Regions from separate parts of the Homo sapiens genome. Here all the other regions are linked to region 2. Evidence: fine-mapped expression QTL. A gene starts in region 2. Each other region holds a variant in brackets. All regions are shown on one strand. Distances are from middle to middle.

What was found. PIP is the estimated chance that this variant, and not a neighbour inherited with it, causes the effect.
Region 1: its variant is the best candidate, but not a certain one, in a credible set for the expression of PLAU in thyroid (GTEx, PIP 0.86).
Region 3: its variant is the best candidate, but not a certain one, in a credible set for the expression of PLAU in whole blood (INTERVAL, PIP 0.74).

What each region holds. Positions count from the first base shown.
Region 1 is chr10:74,011,199-74,013,698 of GRCh38, forward strand. All of the region lies in intron 1 of VCL (vinculin), which reads left to right. Among named protein-coding and RNA genes, the nearest start is that of VCL, 14 kb to the left of the region's middle. The variant C/T (reference allele first, on the strand shown) is at 985.
Region 2 is chr10:73,909,591-73,912,434 of GRCh38, forward strand. PLAU (plasminogen activator, urokinase) reads left to right here and starts at 1,542. Exons shown (of 11, transcript NM_002658.6): 1 at 1,542-1,628; 2 at 1,935-2,022; 3 at 2,451-2,478; 4 at 2,625-2,732. The coding sequence starts at 1,966. C10orf55 (chromosome 10 putative open reading frame 55) reads right to left here. Exons shown (of 5, transcript NR_160938.1): 4 at 2,610-2,694; 5 at 379-2,505. RefSeq lists enhancers at 1-217, 1-523 and a silencer at 1,489-2,088.
Region 3 is chr10:73,872,242-73,875,085 of GRCh38, forward strand. It overlaps CAMK2G (calcium/calmodulin dependent protein kinase II gamma), which reads right to left and starts at 2,314. Exons shown (of 23, transcript NM_001367534.1): 1 at 2,156-2,314; 2 at 748-842. The coding sequence starts at 2,220. RefSeq lists silencers at 1,707-1,766, 2,027-2,196, 2,257-2,416, 2,427-2,706. The variant C/T (reference allele first, on the strand shown) is at 1,420.

The DNA.
Region 1 (2,500 bases), 100 kb after region 2:
GATCAAATAACCATTGATTAAATTAAGTATGTGCATTGCATGTATGCAAAGAGGTAGAGTGGGATAGAGTGTTAGGTAAAAAGGAACTTGTATAATTAGACGTAGGAAATGGGGAACTCACTGCCTTCTTTCAAGTCCCTTGGTAAATGTAGATTTTATGTCCTCATATACTGGATCATCAGTCCTTGGATGATGGATTTCATATCGAATTTTCTTCCCCCTCTCCTCCCTACTCTCCTAGGGTGTCTCCCTTTAGACTGTTGGTTTCTGAAGGGCAAGGAGTGGGTTTTATTCTTCATATTATTGGTTCTGTGTTTACCATAGTCCCCTGCTCATGGTAGTTCTTCAATTAAGTGTGTTATGTTCTGATATTTAATATACCAGCTAGTCATTTTAGGTTATTTTATGATAATAAGGATAGCTGATTATCTCTTGCCTCCACTGGAAGGCATGATGTTTCTCTTTTCCTGCCCTCAAATGTTGCTATGTACCAAATATTTATACAGTCTCAAAGAGAAACAAAGATTCATAAACGATATTATATTGTGTTGGGTACATATTTTGAACTTTTAGATTCCAAAAAATTCCATGTCACTTCTATCAGAAGTTAGCACACTGGATTGGCATAAGTGTGGGGTGTGTGTATAGAGGAGAGAGGTGGTGAATCTTAGAACTCGAAATGTTTTACAAATGTTGTTAAGCTGCAGAAAATAGAGTCTTTGGCCCTTAGAGAATTTCCCACTGATAAAATTTCCAGTTGAATGACTTTTAAGGGGAAAGTGGCTGAATTTCACTGCACTTCTTACCACAGCTGGCCACCATCCAAGTCAAAGTCATTCCTTCTTTTGAAATAAGCTTAAGTTATTCCCATGAGTAAGCTTTCTGTGAAGAAAGAAATGGCACAGTTGTTAGAGTTGAGAGTTGAGGGACCTTTGTTATATAGCTTTCTTGTGTTTCCAGCCTTCTCTTTGTCCTCTCTCCATC[C/T]CTGGAGAACTGGCTCATCTTTTATCTACCAGGTGGATAACATGTTTTTATTCTTGCAATTAAAATAGATAAGGGTATATGAATAGGCTAGTAAATCTCATAAGAAAAAATGTAGATCAGCAACACTTAAATTTCTCATTCTACAATTCTCCCCAAATAGTAAAGTTACTTGTCAAACTCCAGCTATGCACATTGCTAGGTGTTGGGATATATAAGATATGGTCTCTGGCCTCAAGTTGCCTAAAACACAGATGAAATCAATAATCTTATAAAAAAGATTTATTCACATCCTCTCCACCAATATAATTGTTGCAGAATTTATATTATTCTTCTTAAAGAGTTGTGTGTTAACTACTACAAATACAGTGGTTTTTCTTCTTTGGAGTCATGGAGAAGATGTGAAGTGGTAGGGACGTGGGGGAAGAGTGACACACACACAGTAGGCCAGCAGCAGATCGAGACTGGTATGGTATGAGAGGAGTGAGGAGATGGTGGGCCACCTAGTTAGGAAGAGACCTTTGAGCATTGGCCTCAGCTGCTTTCTGCTTGTGGCTGCCCAAACTCACTGGGTTTTTGTTTCCTCCAAAGTACAGTGCTTCCTGTTGGCCTTCCTTCTGCCTGATGTACTCTTCTGTAGTTCTTTACTTGGATAATTTCTACTAATTCTCAGTTTTCATAGTAAATGTCCATTTTTCAGGGACACTTTCCCTGACTACCTCTAAGCTAGGTTAGGCCCTTCTATCATGTACTTTCTATATTTTTTCCTTATTATGCTTATCACAATTGTAATTAATTATTTGTGTGATTATTCACTGTTTAACATATCTCCCCACCAGAGCCTCAGGGGCAAATATTGGCTCTGCTGTGTTTGTCTCTGAATTTTTAGTATCCATCATAGTGCTTGGCATATAGTAGGATCTTGCCTTGTGGAGTAAAGTATTTGTTCAATAAACAAATAGGAAGGCCATTTTCTGCTGCGATCAAAAACTGTTTTAAGCTTCTTTGGAGAAATATATATCAGGCTGTGGTTGAATCTTGGTGAAATTTAACTGCCAATTAGGAAAGTAGCTGTAAATAATTGCTTAACACAGGGCATTGCATGCAAAAGGACCATCTAATTTGTGTTCTCTGAGTGAAAAAAATTTAGGCACAGAGTCCTGGGGTGCAGATGGGGATAATCCTGCACAGCCCAGCACAGGATTATACAGAATATGTAAGTGTGAATAAAAAAATAAACATGGATGTAGAATTCTCTATTAGTTTTGATCTTTTGCAAATGAGCAGAATAGCCATCTTTGGCAAAATGTGGTAGTATGAGTTAGCAAATACCAAAGTCACACTTTAGATATAGATACTAGATAAATCAGCATATGATAATCAGCACATGATAAAAATTTTGGGAAGCAGTACAGTAGTATAATCGTTAAGCATTAAACTCCTTATTTTAAAATCCCATTGTTGACACCTTCGAGATAGGTAACATTGGGGAAGTTATTTAATCTCCATTTCTCTTGAT
Region 2 (2,844 bases):
GAGCCTTCCTCCTTCCTACCTTCCTGGCACTCTCCCTGCCTTCCTTCTGTCACTCTCAGGTGGACCCAGACCCAAGGTCCAGATTTGCAAGGCAGGAAAATGCTGCAGGCCTAGGCTGGGAAAGGGCCCAAAGCCGCTAGTGGATTGCTGGGACTCAGCCTCCTCCTTCCCACTAAGAGAGCGAGTCCTACTGGGTTCAAAATGACCCCAAGCCCTGGTTCCTGACACTAGGGGAAAGAGATGGGGGTGACAGAATCACAGAATCCCTGCTATGTTCCTCCAAGTGTGCCCAGAGATGCGTGTGTGTGTGTGTGTGTATACACAAATGTCTGCTTATCCTCAGGCAGGAAGGGTGGATGCAGTCATTTACACATGGTCTGTTTTTCTGGAGGACAATTTTATTTGATAAACAATTGTTTCTATCTGAATAGAATAAACAAGGCTCTATGATGAAGTAAAACACTAAATACACATGCATTAAAAAATGCATAATTATCTTTTTGGAATGGGCTATACAGAGATGTGCTTTTTAAAATGTTAAGAGTGTAAAAGGACAAACAGTGAAAAATAAATCTTCCTCTTATTTTGTCCTCCAGTCTCCCAATTCCTCTACTCAGAGGTGAGAACAGAACTTCCACACCCTCCAGAACCTCCACAGTTAGAACTGTCTACATGTTTCCATTGTCTTTACTTTTATTCTTGCCTGCACAAATAAATGAATTGCTCATTATGGAAACTTCCCAAAAGACCCGTTAACACTTCAATAGGAAGCACCAACAGTTTATGCCCTAGGACTTTGTTCCCACAATCCTGTAACATCATATCACGACACCTAACCCAATCCTTATCAAGCCCTGTCAAAAACGGACTTTAAACCAAGCTGCAAATTTTCAGTAATCTGGCCTTGCCTTTCCCCCTCTGATAGCACCATCAAACAAACCCCCTTACTGCCGAAAGCAATAAGCCCGGCTTTGTTCCATCCACTGGTTGTGTTGGTGATATCTGGGGACTGCCACTGAACAGACGCACAGAGGGAGCCCCTACAGGCAGGGGTTTTTCTGTCTGTGCTTCTGGGAGAGTATGTCTCGTACATTTGTCGCGTTGATGAAGACTTCACAGCTCCATCAGCTGCGGGCAAGGGGGTCTGAGGCAGTCTTAGGCAAGTTGGGGCCCAGCGGGGAGAAGTTGCAGAAGAACTGATTAGAGGACCCCAGGAGGCTTCAGAGCTGGGCGAGGTAGAGAGTCTCCTGTGCGCCTTCTCTCCTCTCTGCAATTCGGGGACTCCTTGCACTGGGGCAGGCCCCCGGCCAGGTGCATGGGAGGAAGCACGGAGAATTTACAAGCCTCTCGATTCCTCAGTCCAGACGCTGTTGGGTCCCCTCCGCTGGAGATCGCGCTTCCCCCAAATCTTTGTGAGCGTTGCGGAAGCACGCGGGGTCCGGGTCGCTGAGCGCTGCAAGACAGGGGAGGGAGCCGGGCGGGAGAGGGAGGGGCGGCGCCGGGGCGGGCCCTGATATAGAGCAGGCGCCGCGGGTCGCAGCACAGTGCGGAGACCGCAGCCCCGGAGCCCGGGCCAGGGTCCACCTGTCCCCGCAGCGCCGGCTCGCGCCCTCCTGCCGCAGCCACCGGTGAGTGCCGCGGTCCTGAGATCCCCGGGCCGGATGCGCGGCGGCCCCAGCTCCCGAGCGTCTGCCTCCCCCGCCCTGGGCTGCCCGGGCTCCCTGGGCTCCCCGGCGGCTGCACGGAGTCAAGGCGCCCCGTCCCGGGCGTCCCCCGCGGGTGCCGATCCAGGCTGCCCGGAGTCCGGAGCCCAGAGAGGAGAGAGACAGCTGGGGAGCCTGGTCACCGCGGGCATCTCCCCTGCGCTGCAGTCGCCCGCCTGGCCTGCCTTCCCGTTCCTCCGCCTCTTGCCCTGACTTCTCCTTCCTTTGCAGAGCCGCCGTCTAGCGCCCCGACCTCGCCACCATGAGAGCCCTGCTGGCGCGCCTGCTTCTCTGCGTCCTGGTCGTGAGCGACTCCAAAGTGAGTGCGCTCTTGCTTTGACTGATGCTGCCCAAGGACCTCTGATCAGCACCAGGGGAGAGGAGGGGCTGCTCAGGGAGCTGGGGTCCTCCGGATTCCATCCACAGCAGGGCCAGACTCTCCCCAGGAAATGGGACAGGGTGGCAGCGGAGGCTTGAGAACCACGGGGGTTGGCACTGGCTGGCAAGGGAGGAAGAGGCCGCCGGGACTGCCCCAGCCTGCGGGCATCTGGTAGATGAAGCTTGCTTGGGTCAATCCATTTCTCCTGGCTGGAAACCCATGGTCTTCCATTTGAGAACTAGATACGAACAGGGTGAGGCGAGAGGGAGAGGGAAGAGTGGGTTTTGGGATTGGGGCCAGTTTACCCTCACCCTGGAGTCCCTGGAGCATGGGACCTTTGATGAAGCCTCCTCCCGAATCTCTTCCAGGGCAGCAATGAACTTCATCAAGTTCCATGTGAGTATCCACCCCTACAACAGTTGGCTGCACAGACAAGTTGGGAAGGCTTCAGGGGACATCCCCTCCCTGCCCTCTGCTGCAGGGCTGCGCCACCCCTTACCACTTCCACTCCCCCTCGCTTACCCCACCTTTGTTCTCTCCAGCGAACTGTGACTGTCTAAATGGAGGAACATGTGTGTCCAACAAGTACTTCTCCAACATTCACTGGTGCAACTGCCCAAAGAAATTCGGAGGGCAGCACTGTGAAATAGGTATGGGGATCTCCACTGCAACTGGGAGAGAAATTTGGGGACAGGGAGGGATGGGTGGGAGGCAAGAGCAGGCAGGAGTTAGGAGCTGGAGGTAGGGTGGGTGACATCTTCA
Region 3 (2,844 bases), 37 kb before region 2:
CCTCAGGTACTTGGGAGGATCTCGCAAGTGAGGCCCCAAGGCCTTGGCCTTTATGCTCCTCAGACTCGGAGGCAGTGCAGTTCCTGCCCAAACCGGGCCTTTGGGATTTCTAGACCATGAGGCATCACCCTCCACCCAGGACAGACTACATCTGCTGCTGCACCACCAACTTTGTAATTTGATCAAAAAAGCAATCAAGTTCATCTGGCAGAATTTGTTCCTGAGAAGCCCTCGCCAGTAGCAGCCTCCCCTGATGTTTACAGATTCCCTTCCCTTGGGAGTCTGTTCTGCCGCCTGGTGGGCAGGGGAGGCTGGCTTTGTCAGAGCTGCTCACTTACTGCATTTCCATCCTAAGTCACCACTGGGGCACAGGGACCAGGAAAGGCCTGCAGTAGCCACCACTGCCCCAAAGGGAGAGGCTCCAAATGCCCCAAATTAAGAGCTCCCCATTCTGTACCACCCACTACCCCCATATCCTCCACCTCCCTGAAGACCGAACTCCCTTGAGCCTTTGGGGGCCACTGCAGCTACTTGCATCTCTTCCTTCATTCTTTTGTACCTGGGCGCTTCCAGTCCCCCATGCAACTCCTTTTCTGGCTTCAGCCTGACACAAAGTCCAACCAGTCTGAAATTCCAACTCCTCTCCAAGTGCTAAAACGCACAACCCCCAATTCCTGGGGCTTCCTCAAAAGAAACCATGGCCCCTGGAGGCACCCTCAGGAAGAGGTCAAGACAGGGAACACTCACCCCGGGCAGACAACTTCTTGGTATTGATGATTTTTGCTGCGTACTCCTGCGTGGAGGTTTTCTTCACACACCTGCGGACCACAGAGAAAGCACCCCTGGAGGGAGAAGGGGAAAAGAACTGGGACACGGAGCAGGGCAGAGTGACACAGACACACTTCAAGTCTGGGGACGATGATGCTCCCACCACCAGACCTCTAGTCACACTCACGTACATGCACACACACCGGCGCTGTGACCACCACCATCCAACATGAGGCAAAAGGACGCGGCCACCGCAGGACACTGAACAGATGTGGGTGGCGTGCCGCGCTCCCACCCCCTCATCCAGTCCCTGGGCAAGGCAACAGCCTCCACCTCAGGCTGCACATCAGGAGCGGGTGGGCGATGCTGAAAACACACACCTGCTGCATCTCAGACAGCCCTGCGGTCCCGGCCAAGAGAACCAGGGCAGAAGGGAGCAGAGAGACCCTGCCCTTCTCTCAGCAGGAACAGTTGAAGGTCGGGGAAGGAAAGATTAAAAAGAGGGTATCATCCCCTGAAAGAGAAATCTCCCTCAACCATGGGGCAAAGTGAGGCTCAAACCCCCCCACAGCCGGTTTCATCTCACTGCATCCCGGCTCAACTGACAGCAAGGGAAGAGAGGACACAGTCAGACATCAAGAACTCCCCTTC[C/T]CATGCTATTTTCCTTGACGTCCCCGTCAAACGGGAGCTCGCACTCTGAGCTCTGGAAACGTCTGGGGGGGCGGGCGGGGCGGGGGCTGCAGTGGCCGGGCTCGGCGCCGCGGGTGGGGGTGGGGGGCCGGGGCTGCTGCAGCGGCCAGCTCAGTGCGGAGGGGAGGGGGATGCTGAGGCTGCGGCGCGGCTCCCGGGACCACTGCAGGGGTGGGGGGAGGGGACGGGGGTGCCGCAGCACTGCCCAGCCGCGGGGCTGGGAGCCTGGAGCGGCACCCGCGGGGGGCGGGGCCGGGCGCCAAACAGCCCCCCCACGCCCGGGCTCCGCAGCAGAGCTAGGGCTGCAGGGCTGGGGAGGGTCCTGAGTGCGAGGCGCGTGGGACCTGGGTTCAGGGTGCGGAGTGAGCAACCGGGCAGCGTTGGGAGGTGGTCGGGAGGGGGGCGCCTGAAGGGTGCGGAGGGGCGGGGCTGGAGGGCACCCGGGAGCGGTCCGGGGTCTGCGGTGTCCGCGGCGGCGCGTGGGGAGCAGCGGCCCCGCCAGTTGCTGCAGGGCGCGGAGGGGGATGCGGGGCAGTGCGCGGGGGGCGCGGGGACCGAAGGCGGCGGGCGGGAAAGGCGGGGGTGGGGCGGCCGAGGGGGAGCCGCAGCGGCCGGTGCAGGGCCGGGGGGCGGGGCGAGAAGCCGCATAGCTCCCGGGCGGCAGGGCAGGCAGGGGACCGCGGCGGGCGGGCCGTACTTGCCAAGCTCCTCGAAGAGCTGGTAGTCGTCGGTGAAACGGGTGCAGGTGGCGGTGGTGGCCATGCTGGCGGGCGGGCGGACGCGGCGGTGCAGCCCGCGCCGACGTCGGTGCACAGTCACCGCCGCCCGGCCGAGGGAGCAAGAGGAGGAGACGGGGCTGAGCCCGGCAGCACCGCGAGACTTTACCGGGGAGAGCGAGGGAGGGAGGGACACCCCCGCGCCGCCCGCCCCGCCCCGCCCCCAGGCCCCGCCAGTCCCCCCCCCCGCCCGGCCCCCGGCCCGCCCCCGGGGAGGGGCCTCCCGCCGCCGGCCCCGCCCCGCCCCGGAGCCGCCCTCGCTGGGCCAGGCGCGCGGGGCAGCCGAGGGGAGGGGGTCCCCGCTCCGGGCCACCTGTCTGGGCAGACGGAGCTGGAAGGTTCGCGACTTATGGGCTTGTCCCGGGGCGGACCCCGCGCGGGCTCGGGAACGTGCATGCGAGGGTGCATGTGTTAGGAGTGTAGGAGTCTGGACCACTGACCTCTCTGGACGGGTCCTACACGCGGGTCCCGAGCCCCCAACCGGGCTCCTAGCACGTGGGGAGAGAGCCAAGGTCAAGGAGCCTGTGCCAGGCTGCACGCCCGGGAGGCGCCCCCAGCCTGCGCAGAGCCAGCTGCCAGCCGCCTTCCCTCTGGGAGCTGACAGTCTAGA